Linked DNA regions of Homo sapiens. The protein of the gene in region 1 interacts with the protein of each later gene in a biochemical or structural test. Each region holds a gene or a part of one and is shown on either strand. Other genes may lie near its edges. The genes, in order: TNFRSF13B, TNFSF13B and TNFSF13.

The links.
Region 2: the proteins of TNFRSF13B (region 1) and TNFSF13B form a complex in vitro, tested with the Homo sapiens proteins (3 studies listed by BioGRID and IntAct, with this or other methods).
Region 3: the proteins of TNFRSF13B (region 1) and TNFSF13 form a complex in vitro, tested with the Homo sapiens proteins (2 studies listed by BioGRID and IntAct).

The regions. Positions count from the first base shown.
Region 1 is NC_000017.11:16,968,621-16,976,072, reverse strand, and holds the start of TNFRSF13B (tumor necrosis factor receptor superfamily member 13B), read left to right. Parts: upstream 1-3,954; 5' UTR 3,955-3,997; coding exon 3,998-4,058; intron 4,059-7,452. UniProt on the Homo sapiens protein: Receptor for TNFSF13/APRIL and TNFSF13B/TALL1/BAFF/BLYS that binds both ligands with similar high affinity. Mediates calcineurin-dependent activation of NF-AT, as well as activation of NF-kappa-B and AP-1.
Region 2 is NC_000013.11:108,286,441-108,294,015, forward strand, and holds part of TNFSF13B (tumor necrosis factor ligand superfamily member 13B), read left to right. Parts: intron 1-362; coding exon 363-419; intron 420-7,575. UniProt on the Homo sapiens protein: Cytokine that binds to TNFRSF13B/TACI and TNFRSF17/BCMA. TNFSF13/APRIL binds to the same 2 receptors. Together, they form a 2 ligands -2 receptors pathway involved in the stimulation of B- and T-cell function and the regulation of humoral immunity.
Region 3 is NC_000017.11:7,553,549-7,561,999, forward strand, and holds TNFSF13 (tumor necrosis factor ligand superfamily member 13 isoform alpha precursor), read left to right. Parts: upstream 1-5,201; 5' UTR 5,202-5,491; coding exon 5,492-5,749; intron 5,750-6,075; coding exon 6,076-6,154; intron 6,155-6,297; coding exon 6,298-6,345; intron 6,346-6,500; coding exon 6,501-6,619; intron 6,620-6,801; coding exon 6,802-6,940; intron 6,941-7,175; coding exon 7,176-7,285; 3' UTR 7,286-7,450; coding exon of another isoform or gene 7,451-7,457; 3' UTR 7,458-8,053; downstream 8,054-8,451. Other genes in the region: TNFSF12-TNFSF13 protein, read left to right, coding at 3,230-3,354, 6,076-6,154, 6,298-6,345, 6,501-6,619, 6,802-6,940, 7,176-7,285; TNFSF12 (tumor necrosis factor ligand superfamily member 12 proprotein), read left to right, coding at 3,230-3,354, 3,551-3,802. UniProt on the Homo sapiens protein: Cytokine that binds to TNFRSF13B/TACI and to TNFRSF17/BCMA. Plays a role in the regulation of tumor cell growth. May be involved in monocyte/macrophage-mediated immunological processes.

The DNA.
Region 1 (7,452 bases):
CGGCAGGCTATACTAAATGGAAAAGGTGGCATGCTAAACAGCAACCTTGATCTGTATAAGCCAGCAGTTGTGTTAAAAAAAAAAAAAAAAGGTATGGAGGGGGAGGGAGAGGTGAAATATATCCTCTAGCGACACGCACATGCTCAGAAATGCCTAGGCTTTGCTGGGAGGCTGTATGAACAAGGTCCACTAAGGGTTGCCGCCTTTGAGTAGGGACATCATGGGCCTAGGATAACCAGACAGGAGAGAAATTTACTTCCGCCATATTCTTTTACTGCTTGAATTTTTTTCTTTACTATGTGTGCATTTTAACTCGCTAATTATACATATATAAATGAACCAGGTCCAAAACCTTAAGGTATATGAGTTATCTCTACTCTGGGTTCTAAATCTCTTCTGTCACCTTGGCTGTGGAGCTTAAAATTAGAATCCCGCATCCTCTTGGGAGACAGCTCAAAAAAAGGCTGGTCTCAGAATGAGCTTTAGAAACCTCCAGCACCTGTTCAATCTTCTGGGGGAGCCAGTGCAGAGGGGGAATCTATTTTTGTGTTTCATGAAACGATCCCATTTGTATGTTTCCATTTATACAAAGTTTGGGGAACAAGCAAAATGAATCTGTGGTGGCAGGAGTCAGAATTGTGACTCTCTTGGGGATGGAGTGGGGTGTGCTGGCTGGAAGGGGCAGTGAGGGACCTTCTGGGGGCTGTGCATGCTCTGAGTTGTGATCTGAGTTGTGGTTGCCTGGGTGTGCATGTATGAGAACACTTACTGAACTTCCCATTTTAAAAGGGTGCATTTCACTGTCTGTAAATTACACCATCTAATTAAAGAAAATAGAAAGCAAATTAAATCCATTCTCTGTAAACTGCATTTGAGCAAAAGCATTAACAAGCTGTGATTGGCAGTAAGACATTAGGGAACTCTGTCATTCAATTCTCAGCCACTCCCCAAATCAGGCTGGATTTTGTTTGTTTTTCATTTCAGGCATAACAGGTATTGGCTTTAAAACTCCAGGACAATGTGTGTGGCTGCAGAGAGCAGCATTCAGTCCCATGGAAGCACAGTCTGGAAGCACAGTCTGCTCACTGGACAAAGCTGAACTTGCTGTCTTTCCTTCTTCTCCTTCCTTCTCCTCTTTCTCCTTCTCCTTCTTCTTCCTCCTCCTCCTTTTTTTGCGACAGGTTCTCATTCTGTAGCCCAGGCTGGAGTGCAGTGGTGTGATCATAGCTCACTGTAGCCTTGAACTCCTGAGCTCCAGCCCAGTGTTGCAATCCTCCAGCCTCCCAAGTTGCTAGGACTACGGGTGCACACCACCACACCCAGCTAATTAAAAAAAAAATTAGGCTGGGTGCAGTGGCTAACGCCTGTAATCCCAGCACTTTGGGAGGCCAAGACGGGTAGATCACTTGAGGTCAGGAGTTCGAGACCAGCCTGGACAACATGGTGAAACCCTGTCTCCAATAAAAATACAAAAATTAGCCGGGAGTGGTGGCTCACTCCTCTAGTCCCAGCTACTCAGGAGGCTGAGGCACGAGAATCGCTTGAACCCAGGAGGTGGAGGTTGTAGTGAGCTGAGATCACGCCACCACACTCCAGCCTGGGCAACAGAGTGAGACTCGGTCTCAAAAAAAAAAAAATTATAGAGACAGGGTCGCTATGTTGCCCAGGCTAGAGCTGAGCTTTCTAACCATCAGAGCTACCCCCCAGGGAGCCAGCTGCTCCGTGAGGTGGTGAGAGCCCTGACCCTGGGGGTATGCAAACAGGAGGTGAGGGGGGACTCAGTGAGGGCATCCTGTAGTGACTTTGGGCTTGCCCATTTCAACAGGCAGAAAGTTCCTGGCAATGGGATCTCTTTCTTACCTCTCTCTTAGAAATCCACTGCCAGAGCCCAGCTATGGTTTTGTCACTGTTCATTGACACAAGTAATTAAATGTAAACAAGTAATTAAATGTAAAACCCCTACAAATGTAAAAGCCCTAAATGTAAAATGTTTAGCCCTACAAATAGGGCTAAAGTCCCCTTTGACGGTCACCCCCAGTCCTGGTTCCCTCTTGCCCCACCCGGCGAGAGCCAGTTTCGTCATGCATGTCTTTGCAGACTTCTTATGCTTCACAGTCATGTGTGCGTGATCACAGACAACACAGCGCTGTACTGTGTGTGTGTGTGTGTGCATGTTGTTTGCTTTTGGTTTTGTTTTACTAAAAGGCATCATGCTGTAAGGCTCATGCTATAAGCTACTTTTATTTACTCAGCGTCTGTCCTGAAAGCTTCGAGATTTCTCATTCTTTTAACTGTGCAATAGATTCCTGGCTCTGGCCTGTGCACCCTGCTTATTCAGGCATCCTCTGCTGCATGGACATTTACATTGTTTCCCGTTTCTCGCTGTCATGAGGAGGCTCACGGAGGAGGAGAATTTCTGGGGGGTGGGTTAGGTGTGTGTTGTGCATTTAACTGACCCTGGCTGGTTACTCTCCAGAACGCTGCTGCCAGCTCCCTCCCTCCAGTGGGCCCTGAGTTCATGCTTCTGTAGATCACCCCCCTGCCCTTGATGTTACCAACTTTAAAACTTTGCAACCTGATGGCTGAAAGTTAGTTTTTCATTGTTCAGTTGTTTTTCTGATTTTTGGGAGACTGGACATTTTCCTGTGTTTGCTGACCGTCTGCATCTCCTCTCCTGCTCTGTGCACCATCACCCTGCTCCAGCTGCTTCCTGCAGCCTCCCTCCTTCCTCTCCACCTCTCCATGTCCTCCTCGTCCTTCAGTTTCTTCCTAAGGGCCCATGGGCTTTCTTTGGCTTTTACGTTCCTCTCACTCCGCCTTTGGCTGTTGCTGGGCCTCCCATCCCCTGGGAGGTTTCAGACGATGGGGAAGACACAGGAGTGCAGTCGCCATGCAGTGCAATACGGGCTGTAATGTTCCTCCTCCACGGCCTTTATTGAGGACTTACTGTGTGCCAAGAACCTGCTCTAAGAATGTAACTGTGCTCCCTCCCTCATTTCATGCTCATAACCGCCTGTGAGGCGGGCAATGTTCTCATCCTTTTTTTTTTTTTTTTTTTTGAGATGGCATCTCTGTTGCCCAGGCTGGAGTGCAATGGCACGATCTCGGCTCACTACAACCTCTGACTCCCAGGTTCATTCTCCTGCCACAGCCTCCCAAATAGATGGGACTACAGGCACGCGCCACCACACCCGGCTAATTTTTTGTATTTTTTTTTAGTAGAGATGGGGTTTCACCGTGTTGCCCAGGATGGTCTCGAACTCCTGAGCTCAGACAATCCACCTGCCTCGGCCTCCCAAAGTGCTAGGATTACAGGCGTGAGCCACCATGCCCGACCTCATCCTTGTTTTACACAGAGAACATGGAGGCACAGAAGAGTTCCATAAATTGCCACCAAGGCCTTCTGCTAGTATGCAGCAGAGTCAAGATTCAAACGCAGGCTGTCCGGTCCTGGGGTTCAGCCTCTCCAGTGCTCTGCTAGGTGTTGGAGAGGGTCAAGGAGATACAGAGAATGAGTACCACCTGACAGGCTGGGACAGTCAGGGATGGCTTCCTGGAGGAGGTGACACCTCAATGGAGCCTTGAAGGAAGAGCAGGAGGAGCCGACCAGGCAATGAATAGAATAAGTATACCCAGGAAGAGGGAAAGGCCTGAGTGATGCTGGGAGGGTGGAGAGCTGGCCTGGCTTGGGGTGTGTGCCGGCGGGCAGGAGATGAGGACCAAGGGATGGCCAAGGCCAGATCTAGAAGAGCCTGGGCCATCCCATAGTCAATACCTCATCGCAAGGCCCGGCAGGCCTTCCACTGCTCTGTGTGTACCCCATGGGACGCCAGGAGCCTGGGCCGCAGCCACCCACCTGGGCTCCTGAGACCCAATGCACAGGCATGGGGGCGGGAGTGGGTGTGGCTGATTTACATCCAACAGGTTGAGGGGAAAACCCAGGAAGTGCAGCCCAAGCACTAATCAAATCTAAGACTAGTAATAAGCATCCTGAGTAATGAGTGGCCTGGGCCGGAGCAGGCGAGGTGGCCGGAGCCGTGTGGACCAGGAGGAGCGCTGTGAGTAGCCGGGCAGGAGGGCAGGAGGGCAGGTGGGAGGTGTGAGGAGGGTTGGGCCTGAGTGCCGTGGGGGTTGCAAGGTCCAGCAGGTGCAAAGCCCACAGCAGATCCACACACTGGGGCAGTCCCAGCCTCCCCAAGCTCCTGCACATGGAGAGCCCCGAGTCTGGATGCCTCTGGGATGTGGGGCTTGCCTTCCGTGACAGAAGCCACTGAGGTTGCAGGGTTGGCCACACCGGCAGGAATTCCCTTTGTCACCATGGCCCCTGCACAGCCCCCATTTTCCCCCTTACATGCCCGCTGGACCATTTTAATGCTAATCTCAAATACCAGATTGTTTGAGTTGTGGAGACCACAGGATTTATTCCTTAAGAACACAAACCCTAAAAACAAAACAAAAAACTAAGCATCATACCTTCACCCCTGCTGAAACAACAATTCCTGAACATCATCACATAGCCCGCCAGGGTTCAAACTGTACCAACTGTCTCACCAATGTCTTTCTCAGTTGACTTGTTCAAATCAGCCTGTCCCACATTAGACTTTTGGCTATGTTTTAATCTATAACAGTTTCCACCCATTTTTTCTGTTATATATTTATATTTATATTTATCCTATAGCTTTCTTTTTTTTTGTTTTGTTGTTTTGTTTTTGTTTTTGTTTTTTGAGACAGAGTCTTGCTCTGTCACCCAGGTTGGAGTGCAATGGCATGATCTCGGCTTTCTGCAACCTCCGCCTCCCGGGTTCAAGCCATTCTCCTGCCTCAGCCTCCCGAGTGGCTGAGATTATAGGTGCCCACCACCACGCCCGGCTAATTTTTTGTATTTTTAGTAGAGATAGGCTTTCGCCACGTTGGCCAGGCTGATCTCAAACTCCTGACCTCAGGTGATCCACCTGCCTCAGCCTCCCAAAGTATTGGGATTACAGGCATGAGCCACGGCACCCGGCCCGTATAGCATTTTCATCAGGGTGGGTTTCTAAGGTTTTATGAAAGGGCCCCAGGTCCTTTAGTGCAGACAGAACCCATGGCCAGATGGACCCGGGGCACAGCCTAGATTCACAGCCTCTGCCTGCTGCTCTGTCCCACACCTCAGGCAGGGAGCAAATTTGTTCTTCAGTCCTTTTTTGTGTCCAGCCACCAAGTCCCCAGAATCTACACAGCCAGGGGCTCAAATATGTAAAGTTTCTGAGAGACTTGGACAAGGCAGTGACCAGAGGCTGCCTTAACACAGGATGAAATTGCCCAGTGCTCTGGGGCCACGAGTCAGGACCCAGCTAGAACTGTGACCTGGCAGTGGCAGAAGCTGTCTGGTGCTGCCGAATCAGCCCTGGCCGGTTGTCCACTGGCCCACTCTGGGACCTTGGCTGAGCCGCTTCCCCTCAGTGTAAAATGAAGAAGACTGTCTTTCCTACCAGACATCCCTCAAACACACAAAAGTGCTTTGATGAAACTACCAGACCCCCTCTTGGGGAGTCATGAGGAAAGGCTCTGAGAAGCCCTGCGGTTAAAAAACTGCCTTGACTTTCTTTAACCCAGTGTTTTTCAAACTAATCCGACCACAGAGCTCTTTCTTGGTGCAGCACCTGTTAACCGGCCAAGCCCGTGAGGAGGCACAAGCAGAGGGCTCTGAGAATCACCCTCCTTGGCTGCTCTCTGGTCTCGGGGTGCAGGAGAGAGTCTCCATCCTGCATCCAAATTTGTGGCGGCCCAGAGTCTGAGCCCAGCCCACACAGCTAGTGTCAGAGAGGTGTTCCCTTTCTTCCCTTTCCATCAACGAAGCTTCTCTCTCAAGCTTCTATTCTGCCTGGCTGGTGTCAGTCATGGGGTTTTCCTGCCCTCCTTTGGCACTTGATGATGGTTCTGGGATTTTATGTAGGTCCACATGGTGGTAGAGGAGGGGGCGGGGACAGGCCCTCTGGTCAGCTTGGCATCTGCTGTCTGGTCAGTCAGGCACTGTCTCTCTGTCAGGTCCAGTGGCTTTTGGTGGCTTTGGTCCAGGCAATGAATGGGTCTTGGAACATCTCCAAGGCTGCCCTTGTCACATAGAACGTCCTGCCCACCTTCCACTCAACCAACCCTTCACGGTGATATGCGGCGGGTGGTGGCTTTCTCCCTCTTTGCTCCCCAACCCAAAAGTGGGGAGAATCGGGTCTGCCTTTAATTTTGTTTGATCCTTTGATTTTAGATTTGCCTTTGAATAGATAGTATAGTCAGATGGTTTGAAACCCAGAAAGTATTGAAAGATATATAATAGAAAGTCTTTTCTTCCTCCTTGTCCTCCATCTGCCCAGTTCCCACCTCCCCTAGAATAAGCAGCTTTATTTACATATAACTTACATGCCATGAAATTCACCTGTGTAAAGCATACAAGTCTGTGTTTTTAGTATATTTACAGAGTTGTGCAACCATCACCATAAGCTAATTTTGGAAGATTTTGATGACCCCAAAAAGAAACTTTGTCAGTCTTCATTCCTCCCTAGCCCCAGGCTAATCTACTCTCTGTCTCTATAGATTTGCCTGTTTTGGACATTTTCCATAAATGGAATCATATGTGATGTATTGTGACTAGCTGCTTCCACTTGGCATAATGTTTTCAAGGGCCGTCCATGTTGTAGCAGGTATCAGTACTTGCTTCAGTTTTGTGGCCAAGTAACATTCCACTTTATGGATATGTCATGTGGCTTTTCCAGTCATCGGTGGATGGACATTTGGGTTGTTTCTACTTTTTTTGTCACTGTGATTATTAAGAAAGCTTCTATGAACTTTTGGATTCAAGTTTTGGGTGAACATGTCTTCATTTCTCTTAAGTAGATAGATACCTACAAGTGGAATTGCTGGGTCATATGATAAATTCTATGTTTAACATTTTAAGGAACTGCAAAATGCTTTCCAAAGCAGCTGCACTATTTTATAATTCACTTCATGCATGAGGGTTCCAATTTCTCCACATCTTCACCGACATTTGTCATTGACTGTCTTTCTCATTCTAGCCATCCCAAGGGGTGTGAGGTGGTATCTCACTGTGGTTTGGATTTGCATTTCCCTAGTGACAAATGATGTTAAGCATCTTTTCATGTGCTTCTTTAGCCATTTATATGGTTTTTTTGGGGAAAATGCCTATTGAAATATTTAGCCCATATAAAAATTGGGTTGCCTTTTCATTATTCTGTTATAAGCATTCTTTATATATTTTGGATACAAGCTCCTTTTCAGGTATAATATTTGAACCTATTTTCTCCAAGTTAGTGAATTGTCTTTTTACTTTCTTCATGATTTGCTTTGGAACACAAAAGTTTTTCATTTGATTAAGTCCAATTTTGATCAATCTTCTCTTCTATCACACGCACATTTGGTGTCACTGCCTAGCCTCAAATCATGAAGATTTACTTCTAT
Region 2 (7,575 bases), on another chromosome or scaffold:
GATTGTTTAGAATGTTCTTATAAGGTTAACTGTTTCATGTATTTGGTAGACTTGCAAAACAAATGATTAAACTTGCTTTCTCTTCAGCCATTTCTCAGAGCAAATTAGGTTAAACTGTAAGGGTGATATTATATTTTAACAGCACATAGAGCTTTTCTGAAATGTCATGAATTTCATATATATATATCATATATATAAATCAATGGGCAAATATAAAGTAACTTTAAGAATAATGTCATGCAATCAATGTAAAAAGTATAATTGATTTAGTGTTTCTGGAAGAGTGGGTTTCTAGCTTTGTGTTCTCAGTTTCTTTATTATTTCTACTCAAGTAACTAAAATGATAAATTTTTGCTTTTTAGTCACTCAAGACTGCTTGCAACTGATTGCAGACAGTGAAACACCAACTATACAAAAAGGTAATAAAATATAGCAAAGACTTGGAACCAAGCCAAATGTCCATCAATGATAGACTGGATTAAGAAAATGTGGCACATATACGCTATGGAATACTATGCAGCCATAAAAAATGATGAGTTCATGTCCTTTGTAGGGACATGGATGAAGCTGGAAACCATCATTCTCAGCAAGCTATCGCATGTTCTCACTCATAGGTGGGAACTGAACAATGAGAACACATGGATACAGGAAGGGGAACATCACACACCGGGGCCTGTTGTGGGGTGGGGGGAGGGGGGAGGGATAGCATTAGGAGATATACCTACTGTTAAATGACGAGTTAATGGGTGCAGCACACCAACATGGCACATGTATACATATGAAACTAACCTGCATGTTGTGCACATGTACCCTAAAACTTAAAGTATAATAAAAACAAATAAAATATCCCCAGTACTTTTTCCACTTAGAATTCAGTCCACTCCAAATATTTGTAAGTTTCAAGTCTAAAGACTGTATTTGAATTGCATGTAAAATCAATCAGCCATCTCAGAACTTCTTATAATCAGGTAAAAAATAATAAACCTACATTTATTCAAAATGACTTGGGAATAAATAATAATTAAGACCAAAGTAATAATCTAATAAGGAGAATGACCTTAGAGGCACGAATACTTAGAAATGTTAAATAATTAAACTACAATAAAATAAAAACCAATAATAAATCAAATTCCATTTTTATTATTTAGACAGCATTTTATCTTTAAGAATGACTCAAGACCATCTTCACAAATATGAATTCTCCTGTTATATTCAATTGTAAAAATCATAGAAAGAGGAAAATAAAACTGAACAGATTATTAAAAATCTGTATTTTTAAAATAAATTTCCAACATCAAATTATTGCTTGATAATTTACCGTTTTCTCACAGAGGTAGAATGTTTTACATTTTTCAGTTATTTGAAGCCTTTTTTAGTTTTAATTTTAGACAAGTTAAGTGTTTTCCATAATAATGGCCTGAAACCAGGTTTACAAAGAAACAACTTTTAATGTCATTTCCCAATATGTGTCACCTAGAATGTTAATCCAGAGAAATGGTCCTTGAAATAAGAGTTTCAGTGTCGTATAAGTTTGGAAACACAGCATCTTACATATTTTTCTTTGAGTCACAAGGCACATTAGCAAGTTATTGAATCTAAGTAGTCCTACTTTAAAAAATGTTTGTTTAACTTTGTTTCATCCAGTTTTTCACAAATTTTTGTGACTATGCTGCTTTATCATGTATCGACCTCTCTCTGAAAGCAAATGGGAATTGATGCTCTATAATAGCATTTGTTTATATAAGATAACTAGTGAACAAAAATGTACTAAAAAAGAACCATTCGTTCACTCACACATTCATTGATTCATTTAGTTTACATTTATTAATTAAGAATATACAATATTTTAATTACTGTATGTTTACTGGGTGTATCAGTGACTAAAATATGCACAAATGCTCCTTGGCTTACAATGGAGTTATGTCCTGATAAACCCATCCTAAGCTGAAAATAACGGGCCTTGAAAAAAGCAGTTAGGACATCTAACTTACCAAATATCATAGCTTAGTCTAGCCTACCATAAATGTGCTCAGAACACTTACATTAGTCTACAATTGGGCAAAATCATCTAACATGAAGCCCATTTTATAGTAAAGTATTGAGTAGCTCATGTTGTGTTTTGAATACTGGAATGAAGTATGATTTCTCCTGAATGTATGTGGCTTTCACACCTTTGTAAAGTTGAAGATTCTAAGCCAAACCATCGCAAGTCCATATGCATGGTTTTCTACTTTGAAAGAGCTTACCTCTTGATGAGGAGAAAACAAACGAAAGGCCCAACAACCCACAAATGAACAAGTAAAATGTAGATGAGACGAAATGCTGTGGAGGGCAGCAAAGCAGGCGGGGGCAGGAGAAAGTTTTGTGTTGTGAACGAACTACGAGTTCAGGAGTATCTGGAGGTTAGGCTAGGCGATGAGGAATGGGCAAAACAACACTAGCACAGATGATGAATGTGAGTTGGCACTGGTAATGATTCCCTGGCATGCTCTTTTCATCTGTGTTTTTTTCTGCGTGACTTTAATTGTCCTAAATGCAACACAAGTACTAAACTACTTGTAAATCTATTATTTATTGTTCAACATTTTCCTAAATCATGTTTGCAACTTTTAATAAGCAGCACACTGTTTCCTAAGAAGTAAAAGAAAGCCAGAAGATCTTAAGGGCCAAAGTTACAGTTTTTAAAAATTCTTTTGAAAAGGTTTACTTTACACATCTCTCCCCCACCCCCCAAAATGCTATAAATTGCACCAAATTATGCAGCTGCTATACTCCAATGTGCGTGTGAACTGGAGAGTATGCTGTGATCTTCCTGGAGTGGTGACTGCTTGCCACAGATCCAGGGGTGCTGAACTGGGGTGATTACCTGGGATGCTTGCTTGCAGTGCTCCAACCTTTAGGATGGACAGGTTGCCCTTGTGATGTCAGCAAACCCTTGACCAGTATATAAATGTGAGTGTGCATGGGCATTTAGCAGGCAGATTGCATTTAGCAGGTAGGTTGCATTTTGTTAAAAAAGGCTGTACTCACTAAAGCATTTTACTTGCACAGGTCCATAAGAAGACTTCTGGGAAAAGATAATAATATATTATTAATATTATTAGCATATTATATGTAATTATATATTATATAATATATAATGTATTATAATAATTATATATAATAATATATTATTATCTTCTGGGGAAAGAATTTATATATATAAATATTATTAGCATATTGTATATATTATCTTATTGTATTATACATAACATCAGGTCTTGAGATGAAATCATGTTATGTATTCCAGAGACATGGAGATTCAAAGGAGCGGGGCTACGTTCATCTGATATTTTGAGTTCCTATGCTTGCTCTGCCCCATACTTTTGTCCAGACAGTGAGGGCAGAGGTAAACTTCACAAAAGAGAAAAAGACAAGAGGGGTTTATCAGAGTGTAGTCTCATGTCTTTTCTGTTCATTTGTTTTTTTGAATTTTAATCTAGATTTTGAATAGGTAATGCATTCACACGTTGCAAAAAATAAAAAAGCATGAAGAGTGTGGATTGCTCCTTTTCCCATCTGTTCCTGCCCACACTCACCTCACTTTCAGTTTCCTACATAGACTTCAGACTCCCTCTATGTTAACACAAACAAATGCAAATGTAGCTCTGCTTCCCTCCTTTCTTATAGTAAACACTTAAAAACCATATTTTCAATACATATGATTTGAAAATGAGATTATAACCTGCATTCTTTACTTAACAATGTATATTGCAGACATTTTGATGCCTGTGTACAGAGATCCTCATATGAAAAAAAAAGCAGCATAGTATTCCATTGTATGAATTGAATGTATTTAACCAGTCTCCTACCAATAGACTTCTTGGTGTCCATCTTTTGCAATGCAGGTGCTTCGAAAAATAATTGTGTGCATCCGTAACTTCTCATATGTCAGCCTATGTGTGGGACAGATTTTGAATTTTGACAGTTATTGCTAAGTGGTCCTATAGGGGTTGTAAAGTGTTATGCTATCACTTGCAGCAAAAGAGCATCAGGTGAAAAATAGCATCTCTTAATTTGCTTTCTTTCAAGCCATTCTTTTGTATGTTTTAAGAACCATTTGTATTTCTGTCTTTACATTCTTCCAATTTTTCATGTCTATTTTTATTTTTTTCTGTGAGCCATCTGTTCATATTTTTTTCCATTTTTTCGTTGGACTTGGTCATTTTTAAACTGATTTCTGTGAGCACCTTATATCTCAAGCAGATTAATTCTTTATATTACTAATTGCAAGCATTTCCTCCCATACTGTCATTTGTCTTAATTTTGCATACTTTTTTTTTCTGTCAAATTTGTCAATTTTTTTAAAGGATTCTGGATTTGGGTTGTGATTAGAAAGACCTTTTACACTTAAACGTATTAAGGAAAGATCTCGTGTTCCTTCTGAAACCTTTATAGTTATTTTCTACCTTTAAATACTTTATCTATTTGCAATTTATCCTGGTATAAGATGTAAGGTATGAAACCAACTTAATTTTCCCCTGTGAGGGCATCACAGTCTTTTTTTAATCGCCCATCTTTTCCAGACTGCTTGAAGACATTAACTTTAACTTTTATTAAATTCCATGTTTAGTCTATGTTTTTTTCACTTTTTAAATACTTTTCTGTTATACCATATTGACTTAATGTCTATTTATGCACCCCAATAAAATGGCATTTTGGTTACTAGGGCTTTGTATTATTTTCTGGTAAATTTAATTCACTCATTTTTTCTTTTTACTTCTAGAATTTTTCTTTTTTTTCTATTAAATATAGGAACTGTAGAATCAGCTTACTTAGTTAAAAAGAAAAAGAAAAATACGTGCTATTTTTGTTGAATCTCATATTTATAAATTAAGAAAAATACCCTCATGATAACAGATGTACAGATCAAATCCAAGAACATGATATATATTTATATTTTTTTAGTCTCCTTTTTTTTCTTTTAGTATGTATTGAAATTTTCTTCAAGAAGTTCTTGCATATTTCTTATTAATATCATTACAAAGTGTTTTACCTTTTCAAATGCTATGATAAATAGAAACATTTTCTTTCATTATATTTTCCAGCTGGTTGTTCTTTTTGTGTATAAAAGCCTTGAATTCCATGATATATCTTTTCAATATTAAAGTTGAAATGTTTTCTTTTATTTTTGGATTGCATTTCCCTAGCATGACTTTGCCCAAAATTTTACTTTTAACTTCTCTGAAATAATTTTTCTGTGTTTCTCATGTATGCAAAACAGAGTTGCTCTTTGTTTTTTGATATCATCTTAAAATAATTTTCATTTATTGGGTGATATAAATCAATTTACATTTACTTATTTCAGAAATGTATTTGGCTTTTATTCATCATAATGTGCTATACTGTGTATTGTTTTTCATGTTAACAAAAGAGTTTCTATTTTATAGTTTTAAAGAGGTTGCTTACTATGTAGGCTATTTGCTTTGCTTTTTCTGTTAGCGTAGACTTCTAAATGCTAAATACTAGGGGTAGCTACCTTTTCAGTTATATCTTTTTATTGAAATTAAATTCATATAACATAAAATTAAATGCACAATTCATTGTAATGTAGTATTCACAATATTTTACAACCACCAACTCTCTCTAGCTCCAAAATATTTTCTTCAGCCCCAGAGAAAATCCTGTATCCATTAAGCAATCAGTTACCATTTCTCTGTCTCCCCATGCCCCTGTACCAGCAATCTGCTTTATGTCTCTGTGGATTCACCTATTTTAGATGGTTTATATAAAGGCAGTCACACAATACGTGACTTTTAGTGCCTGGCTTCTTTCACTTAGCATGATGTTTTGAGGTTCACCCACATTCTAGCATGTATTCATACTTCATGCCTCTGTATGAATGTATATCATTCTATTATAAGTAAGCCATAATTTCATTAAGGGTATTTGGTTTGTTTCCACCTTTTGGCTATTGTGAGTAGTGATCCTGTGAACATTTGCATAAAGTACTTCCTGAGTGCCTCTTTTCAATTATTTGGAGTATACATCGATGAATCGATGAGTAGAATTGCTGAGAAAATGTCAACCTGTTCTCTACAGTGCTGCAACATTTTGCCTTCCCCCCAGCAATGTACTAGTGTTCTAATTTTTCCACATCCTCACTGACACATCTTATTTTCAATGTTTTTATTAGTATTGCCTTCCTACTGGGTGTGAAGCCATATCTCTGTTATTTATTTGCATTTTCCTTATGACTGATGATGTTGAGCATCTTTTCATGTCCTTTTTGGTGTCTTCTTTGGAAAAATGTCTATTCAAGTACCTTGTCCATGTGTTTTAATTGGGTTGTTTGTCTTTTTGTTGTTGAGTTGTAAAACTTCCTTATATATTATGGATACAAGACCCTTATCAAATATCTGATTTGCAAGTATTTTCTCCTCTTTTGTGGATTATCTTTTTACTTTCTTGAGAATGTCATTTGAGGCACAAGAGTGTTGTACATCAGATAAATGAAGTAAAATTTATCTTTTTTTTGTTTCTTGTGATTTTAGTGTTATCATTGAAGAACTCATTGCCAAATTCAACATCATGATTCACCCATATGTTTTCTTCTAAGAGTCTTGTAGTTTTATGTCTTATATTTAGGTAATTAATCTATTTTAATTCATTTTTGTATATGGTGTGAAGCAGAGGTCCAAAATCATCTTTTAGCATGAGGATATCTAGTTGTCCCAACATCATTTGTTGAAGAAGATGATTTCTTCCACATTGAACGGTCTTGGCACACTTGTTAAAAATCAGTTGTACGTAGATGTATGGGTTTATTTCTGTACTCTCAAATTTATTTTGTTTCTTTATACACCTCGCCTTATGCTGGACCACTATACTATTTGGATTACTGTTATGTTATAGTAAATTTTGAAATTTAGGATAGTGAATCCTTCAATCTTGTTATTTATTTTTAAGATTGTTTTGGCTATTTGATACTCTTTTGCAATAACAAATGAATTGTAAGGCTGGCTTTTTCATTTTGGAGAACAAAAGGTCACTGAAATTTGTATATGGATTAGACTGAATCTGTACATAATACTGAGTATTACTGCCATCTTAAACTAAATCTATCAATCCATGAACACAAGATATCTTCTCTTTTATTTATATGTCCTATCATTTCTTATAGCAATCTTTTGTAGTGTTCAGTGTTAAAGTGTTTTATGTCCTTGGGTAAATTTACTTCTAGGTGTTATGTTCTTTTGAATGCTGTTTAGTCAGTTCAGTTTGCTATAACATATTACACTAGACTGAGTGGATTAAACAATAAAAATGTATTTCTCACACTTCTGGAGGCTGGAAAATTCAAGATTAAGGTGCCAACAGATTTGGTTTGTGAATGGTGGTCTTTTCATTGTGTTTTCACATGGCTGAGAACAGAGACAAAAGCAAGTTCTTGTGTCTTTTCTTATAAGGACATTAACCCATCCTGAAGGCTGTGCTACCACAGCCTAGTTATTTCCCAAAGGCACCACCCCCTAATACCATCACATTGGAAGTTAGAATTTCAACATATCAATTTTGGGTGACAGAAATATTCAA
Region 3 (8,451 bases), 9.4 Mb from region 1:
CCTAAAAGGAAGATACTCTAATTACCTCCATTTTACAGATGGAGGTTACACAACTTGTCTGAGGCCATGAGATACTAAGTGGTGGAGCCAAGATTTGAACCCAGCTAGAATGTGCCTGTGTACTGGACATGGTCTGCATGAAAGGCGAGGTGGCTGGTGCAGGGGTGAGGGGTCCATGCAGGGGCCACATCCAAAAAGGGGAGAGGGAAGTTTCCAGAAAGAAGAGAGGACACATCTCCCACCATTACCAGAGGGTCAAAGGAGAACAAGAGACCAGGTGGGTTTGTAGATTTGCTGGGGGGAGATGAGGGAACCTTTGCTCGATGACTTCTAGGTCCTCTGGACAACTAGGGAGATGGAGACAGGAGATTTGAGGAGAAATGGTACAAAATCTCAACTTGCTGATTATGAAAGCAAGCTTCGTGGGGGAATGTAAGATTGCCAGGCAGGACGGAATGTCCAGGTGAGGTTTGTGGCTGGAGACAAGTGATATACCAGGCAAGCCCTCCGTGCTCCTGGGCACACCATGCCCTTAGGCTACAAGCAGCCTTTGCTTAGGCTGGCTTCGTAGCTAGGAATGCCCTCTCTTCTCTGCCCTCCCTACTCTTCATGCCCAGATCAGCCTTCCTCCCCTCTGTATAGACCACTTATTTTGGCAATTATCCAGACATTCATTCATTCATTGACTCAACAGGCATTGAAGACCTACTGTTTGCTAGGGGCCAGGCTAGGTGCCCACAGCAACTAATATCCAGACTCTTTTTTTTTTTTTTTTTTTTTTTTGAGATGGAGTCTCACTCTGTCGCCCAGGCTGGAGTGTAGTGGCGCGATCTCGGCTTACTGCAAGCTCCGCCTCCTGGGTTCATGCCATTCTCCTGCCTCAGCCTCCCAAGTAGCTGGGACTACAGGCGCCCGCCACCACGCCTGGCTAATTTTTTTTTATTTTTTAGTAGAGACGGGGTTTCACCGTGTTAGCCAGGATGGTCTCGATCTCCTGACCTCGTGATCCACCCAACTCGGCCTCCCAAAGTGCTGGGATTACAGGCGTGAGCCACCGCGCCCAGCCGGTCAGACCCATTTTTTTTTTTGAGATGGAGTTTTGCTCTTGTTGCCCCAGCTGGAGTGCAGTGGCGCCATCTCGGCTCACTGCAGCCTTCTCGGGTTCAAGTGATTCTCCTGCCTCAGTCTCCCGAGTAGCTGGGACTACAGGCGCCTGCCACCACGCCTGGCTAATTTTTTTTTTATGTTTTAGTAGAGACGGGGTTTCACCGTGTTAGCCAGGAGCGTCTCGATCTCCTGACCTCGTGATCCACCCACCTTGGCCTCCCAAGGTGCTGGGATTACAGGCGTGAGCCACTGTGCCCAGCCTCAGACCAACTCTTAAGGAGTCACTGTCTAGGAGAGGAAACAAGCATATAAATTTGTAATTACAGGAACATACAAAAAAAATTAGCCAGGTTTGGTGGCACATGCCTGTAATCCCAGCTACTCAGGAGGCTGAAGCATGAGAATCACTTGAACCCGGGAGGCGGAGGCTGCAGTGAGCCGAGATTGTGCCACTGCACTCCAGCCTGGGTGACAAGAGTGAGACTCCATCTCAAAAAAAAATTTGTAATTACAGTGGAATATGACAAGAACAATAATAAAAGTGGCCAAGATACCTGGCAACACAGGGGAAGACAGACATGGCTGTGGAGTCAGGGATTCTCTCCCTGCATCGCAAGGTGCCGCTGGGCCTTGAAGCAGGAGCGTAAGACAAGACAGGCAAGGGGTCAAGAATGGTGGGTGCAAGCAGAAGCAGCCCCTGGGGCAAAAGCCCCGGGTTTGCCCAGAGCATGATGAGGCTGGGGGACTCTAAGTTCAGCGTGGCAGAAGCAGAAAGTGCTAGAGGAGCGAGATGGGGATGAGGCTGGAGACAGAAGCCAGGCCACACGGTGGCATGTGGGAACTATTCTGAGGTGAGCCATCGGAAGGAGGAAGGCGAGGCGAGGCGGGCTTACGTCTGCATCTTAGAGACTCATTCTGTGGCTTTGTGTAGGGAATAAACTGGAGGAAGCCAGAATGGAAACAGGGAATGCTGTGAAAACCAGACAGAGGCACCAGATGGGGGAGAGAGGGGAGAGAGCTATTTAGGAGGCAGGATAGATAGGAACTGGTGATCGATTAATGATGTAGGTAAAGGAGAGGGAGGCTTGAATATCCCCCTGGTGGCAAAACCAGAAGCCAAATGTGGAAAACAGACAGTAAAGCAAGAGTGGGATGAGGGGGGTCAGCTCAGTGTTGGTTGAGATGAGTTTGAGGGGCTATTGCTGTTCAGATGGTGCAGTTGGCAGGGTAAGGAAGGGAAGGAAACTTCAGGGCTGGAGACTCTGCAGAGCACAGGTTGTGGGAACCCATTGGTGGAAATAAAAATGCCCAGTGAGCGTTTTTTTTGTTTTTTTTTTTTTTTGGAGACAGAGTCTAGCTCTGTTGCCCAGGCTGGAGTGCAGTGGCATGATCTTGGTTCACTGCAACCTCCCCATCCCAGGTTCAAGTAATTCTCCTGCCTCAGCCTCCCATGTAGCTAGGATTACAGGTGCCTGCCACCATGCCCTGCTAGTTTTTGTATTTTTAGTAGAGACGGGGTTTCACCTTGTTGGCCAGGCTGGTCTCGAACTCCCGACCTCAGGTGATCCGCCCACCTTGGCCTCTCAAAATGCCGGGATGACAGGCGTGAGCCACTGCACCTGGCTGAGCATGATGTTTTCAAGGCACATCTGTGCCATAGTGTGTATCAGTACTTCACTCTTTTTATGGCCAAATAATATTCCATTATATGGATAGACATTTTGTTGATGGACAATTGGGTTTCATTTTATTATTTTTAGTTGTACTAATTCAGATAATGTATGTTTACATCCTCCATATAAAAGAAGCAAATAATATAGATATCCATGAAGTAAAACATTAAATCCCCTCACGCTTCTCCTTCAGTTCTACTCTTCTCCCCAGAAGTGACTGCAGGTGACAATCTGCCCTGAATGTCTCTGGCCATATACATTAGATTTTTTCACATAACTTCCTAGTCAACTATGGGCATCATAGGGGATGGGTCCTCCCTTGCCCGGGGTGATCTATGTGTCTTCTGGGTAAAGTGGGCGCCGAATGTTCATATGCTCAATGGATCCCTGGGGAGTGTGGGGGAGTCCTGTAGAGAGACGTTTCCTTATCTCTGAGCATCCGTGTTCAGGTGTGGACGGGACAGTGAGTGGCTGGGAGGAAGCCAGAATCAACAGCTCCAGCCCTCTGCGCTACAACCGCCAGATCGGGGAGTTTATAGTCACCCGGGCTGGGCTCTACTACCTGTACTGTCAGGTAAGCCCCATCTGGCTGCATGGGTAACGCAGTAAGAGAGTGGCGAAGGGTTTGCCAGGAGAGTGGGGGACAAGCTACAGGGCTGGGAGGGTGAGTTGGGGTTTGGGTGGGATGGGATGCCTGCGTCGCTGAGGAAATTGGAAATTGAGGCGAGGGCAGGCAGAGGCCTGGACTCGGCCTGTTGTCCCCACCCCAGGTGCACTTTGATGAGGGGAAGGCTGTCTACCTGAAGCTGGACTTGCTGGTGGATGGTGTGCTGGCCCTGCGCTGCCTGGAGGAATTCTCAGCCACTGCGGCGAGTTCCCTCGGGCCCCAGCTCCGCCTCTGCCAGGTGTCTGGGCTGTTGGCCCTGCGGCCAGGGTCCTCCCTGCGGATCCGCACCCTCCCCTGGGCCCATCTCAAGGCTGCCCCCTTCCTCACCTACTTCGGACTCTTCCAGGTTCACTGAGGGGCCCTGGTCTCCCCGCAGTCGTCCCAGGCTGCCGGCTCCCCTCGACAGCTCTCTGGGCACCCGGTCCCCTCTGCCCCACCCTCAGCCGCTCTTTGCTCCAGACCTGCCCCTCCCTCTAGAGGCTGCCTGGGCCTGTTCACGTGTTTTCCATCCCACATAAATACAGTATTCCCACTCTTATCTTACAACTCCCCCACCGCCCACTCTCCACCTCACTAGCTCCCCAATCCCTGACCCTTTGAGGCCCCCAGTGATCTCGACTCCCCCCTGGCCACAGACCCCCAGGGCATTGTGTTCACTGTACTCTGTGGGCAAGGATGGGTCCAGAAGACCCCACTTCAGGCACTAAGAGGGGCTGGACCTGGCGGCAGGAAGCCAAAGAGACTGGGCCTAGGCCAGGAGTTCCCAAATGTGAGGGGCGAGAAACAAGACAAGCTCCTCCCTTGAGAATTCCCTGTGGATTTTTAAAACAGATATTATTTTTATTATTATTGTGACAAAATGTTGATAAATGGATATTAAATAGAATAAGTCATAGTCTCTCTCTTTATTGGGGCTCAGGGGACACTCTCAGGGTAGCTGGGGGCCACGTGAAGGGGGGCGTTGCGGAGCGGCACAGCTGGAACTCCGGGATGATGTTCAGGCTTGGGGGCGGGGACCTCCATGCCTCCAGCCCCCAGGTGGGAGCAGAGGTAGGAAGGCACACTGCCCAGGAAAAAAATCAATCCTCCGCCCAAGGTACAGCAGAAGCGGCCTCCTTGGCCTAGGAGGCAGACTTCCTCCTGCGGGGAAATCCCTTCCTGGCTGGGAGGAGCAGGGGCCCTTCCTCTTGGTGGCCTCGGACATTCAGCAGGTGCTGGCACAGGCCCTGGCTGGGAGGTGGGGCGGGCAGGAGCCAGCCTGGAGGAGGGGCTGAGAGTCAGCAGGCACACGGGAACCCGGAACCCTGTGTGCTGGGGAGGAATCCCGCAGTGGCCGGGGGGCTTGAGGCCGCTGCTTTGTCTCTTCGTCCAGAGCCTTATGTAAGAGCTTTTCTCGGGAAACAGGAAGTCCTGCTTGCCAATTTCAGCACAGGGAGTAGTGCAGGCCTTATTCCAACACACCCGGCCCAGCCTTAACCCCAGAACTCAGCCAGTTTCTTGCTTCCGTGCCCCTGGTTCTCCTCCCCATCGAGCCCACCCCTCCTTTCCCACCTTCAGTCACCCCTAGTGAACTGCCCCAGCGATCTCTGCTGTGCTTGACCCCGAGGGTCTTCCACCCTCGCCCTGACCCTGGACACTGCCCAGCTTGGCCCCCCATCCTGCTCCTGGCACAATGCCCTCTAGCCAGCCAACCTTCCCTCCCCCAACCCTGGGGCCGCCCCAGGGTTCCTGCGCACTGCCTGTTCCTCCTGGGTGTCACTGGCAGCCCTGTCCTTCCTAGAGGGACTGGAACCTAATTCTCCTGAGGCTGAGGGAGGGTGGAGGGTCTCAAGGCAACGCTGGCCCCACGACGGAGTGCCAGGAGCACTAACAGTACCCTTAGCTTGCTTTCCTCCTCCCTCCTTTTTATTTTCAAGTTCCTTTTTATTTCTCCTTGCGTAACAACCTTCTTCCCTTCTGCACCACTGCCCGTACCCTTACCCGCCCCGCCACCTCCTTGCTACCCCACTCTTGAAACCACAGCTGTTGGCAGGGTCCCCAGCTCATGCCAGCCTCATCTCCTTTCTTGCTAGCCCCCAAAGGGCCTCCAGGCAACATGGGGGGCCCAGTCAGAGAGCCGGCACTCTCAGTTGCCCTCTGGTTGAGTTGGGGGGCAGCTCTGGGGGCCGTGGCTTGTGCCATGGCTCTGCTGACCCAACAAACAGAGCTGCAGAGCCTCAGGAGAGAGGTGAGCCGGCTGCAGGGGACAGGAGGCCCCTCCCAGAATGGGGAAGGGTATCCCTGGCAGAGTCTCCCGGAGCAGGTGAGTGAGGGGAGGAGGGTGTCTGGGAGAGGATGGTTAGCATGGGGGGTCTCTGGGCCTCCTGGTCTGCAAAGTTTCAAGGGGGTGCAAGAGAGGGTCTCCGGTTTGGAAGTCAGGGGCGCGGCCATTCCAGGAAAGGAAACTGTTAAAGGTTAATGCTTCTCATACCTAACAAATCCTGGAGGGCAGCCAGCACCAACACTCAGGGTGCTGGGAAAAGGTGCGTGAGAGATCTGAGGCATCTCGGGGGCAGGGGAGGGCTGGGAAGGCAGGCTGGCTGGGACCCTCGCATCTTAACCTAACCTTGACCCTCTTTCCATGAGCAGAGTTCCGATGCCCTGGAAGCCTGGGAGAATGGGGAGAGATCCCGGAAAAGGAGAGCAGTGCTCACCCAAAAACAGAAGAGTGAGGCTTCCAGGGTGCAGCAGGGGTGGGAGGTGATCAAGCAGCGTGGGGATTGTAAGCCCGAGTCAGGGTGAGGGTGGAGGCTGCCAACAGCACAACGGGGGAAAGTGGATGCGGCTGAGATTCCCTCCTTCTCTCCTCAGAGCAGCACTCTGTCCTGCACCTGGTTCCCATTAACGCCACCTCCAAGGGTGAGCACTATTTTAAATAATGGCTTTGGGGAGGGGCAATAACCAGGAACTCGGGCTGGCACTTGGGCTCAAGGGGTCCTTATAGGTGAAAGGGAAAGAACCAAAAAGCACCTGAGAGTGCCAAGAAGTCCTGACCGACACACTCTCACCTCCAGATGACTCCGATGTGACAGAGGTGATGTGGCAACCAGCTCTTAGGCGTGGGAGAGGCCTACAGGCCCAAGGATATGGTGTCCGAATCCAGGATGCTGGAGTTTATCTGCTGTATAGCCAGGTAACCCCAGCCACACTCTGAGCTTCACAGAGGGCCTCTTTGGCCCCCTACTGAGGGTTCCTGACCCCTCTATTCATACCAAACCCAGCAGACCCTTCTTTCTTCCCTCGTTAGCGCTCCTGAGGCCTCCCAGAACTGAGCCAGGCCATCCTGTTTTCTTCAACATCTCCCTTCCCTGCCAGGTCCTGTTTCAAGACGTGACTTTCACCATGGGTCAGGTGGTGTCTCGAGAAGGCCAAGGAAGGCAGGAGACTCTATTCCGATGTATAAGAAGTATGCCCTCCCACCCGGACCGGGCCTACAACAGCTGCTATAGCGCAGGTGAGAGCCGTGTGGGCAGCCGAAAGCAGGACGTCTCTGACCGGGGGTAGCAGTGCAGGGAGCTACCGCTAGGAGGGAGGTTGGAAACCTAAACAGAGGCGGGTCTGAGGAGTGAAGTGCAGAATGCCGGGTCCTTACAGGAGGCAGAGGAACGGTGGAGCTGGAGAAGGCAGGGGGAAACAGGGCATCTGGATGGCTGTGCTTCACTGCGAATCTACTTTCTCTCTTTTCTCAGGTGTCTTCCATTTACACCAAGGGGATATTCTGAGTGTCATAATTCCCCGGGCAAGGGCGAAACTTAACCTCTCTCCACATGGAACCTTCCTGGGGTTTGTGAAACTGTGATTGTGTTATAAAAAGTGGCTCCCAGCTTGGAAGACCAGGGTGGGTACATACTGGAGACAGCCAAGAGCTGAGTATATAAAGGAGAGGGAATGTGCAGGAACAGAGGCGTCTTCCTGGGTTTGGCTCCCCGTTCCTCACTTTTCCCTTTTCATTCCCACCCCCTAGACTTTGATTTTACGGATATCTTGCTTCTGTTCCCCATGGAGCTCCGAATTCTTGCGTGTGTGTAGATGAGGGGCGGGGGACGGGCGCCAGGCATTGTCCAGACCTGGTCGGGGCCCACTGGAAGCATCCAGAACAGCACCACCATCTAGCGGCCGCTCGAGGGAAGCACCCGCCGGTTGGCCGAAGTCCACGAAGCCGCCCTCTGCTAGGGAAAACCCCTGGTTCTCCATGCCACACCTCTCTCCAGGTGCCCTCTGCCTCTTCACCCCACAAGAAGCCTTATCCTACGTCCTTCTCTCCATCTATCGGACCCCAGTTTCCATCACTATCTCCAGAGATGTAGCTATTATGCGCCCGTCTACAGGGGGTGCCCGACGATGACGGTGCCTTCGCAGTCAAATTACTCTTCGGGTCCCAAGGTTTGGCTTTCACGCGCTCCATTGCCCCGGCGTGGCAGGCCATTCCAAGCCCTTCCGGGCTGGAACTGGTGTCGGAGGAGCCTCGGGTGTATCGTACGCCCTGGTGTTGGTGTTGCCTCACTCCTCTGAGCTCTTCTTTCTGATCAAGCCCTGCTTAAAGTTAAATAAAATAGAATGAATGATACCCCGGCTCCATTTCCCCCACTGCCTCGCCTCAGCCCGGTCCTCGTACGGGGATCTCCCGCCCTCCTGGCTCTCCTGTGGCGCGCCCCCCGCCGGATCAAGGTACTGGGGATGCCGCTAGGGTCAGGCCCGCGAGCGCGGAGAAGACAGAGCGCGGCGCAAAAGGGAAAGTGGCGGGGCCGCCACGCGCGGCCGGGCGGCGGATGTGCGCAGGCGCAGCCTCGCGTAGCGCTCTGGGCTGGCCAGTCCCGTGGCGCCGGCGTCCTCGGGTAGACGGGACCGCGCGCTTGGTGGCCGCGCCGGCGCTCTTCGCCGGGTGTGACGTACTAATCGTGCGCCACCGCTGCCGGTGGGCCCGGGGCTCGCGGGAGGGGAAGGAGGAGGGGGGGAGGAGTGGCG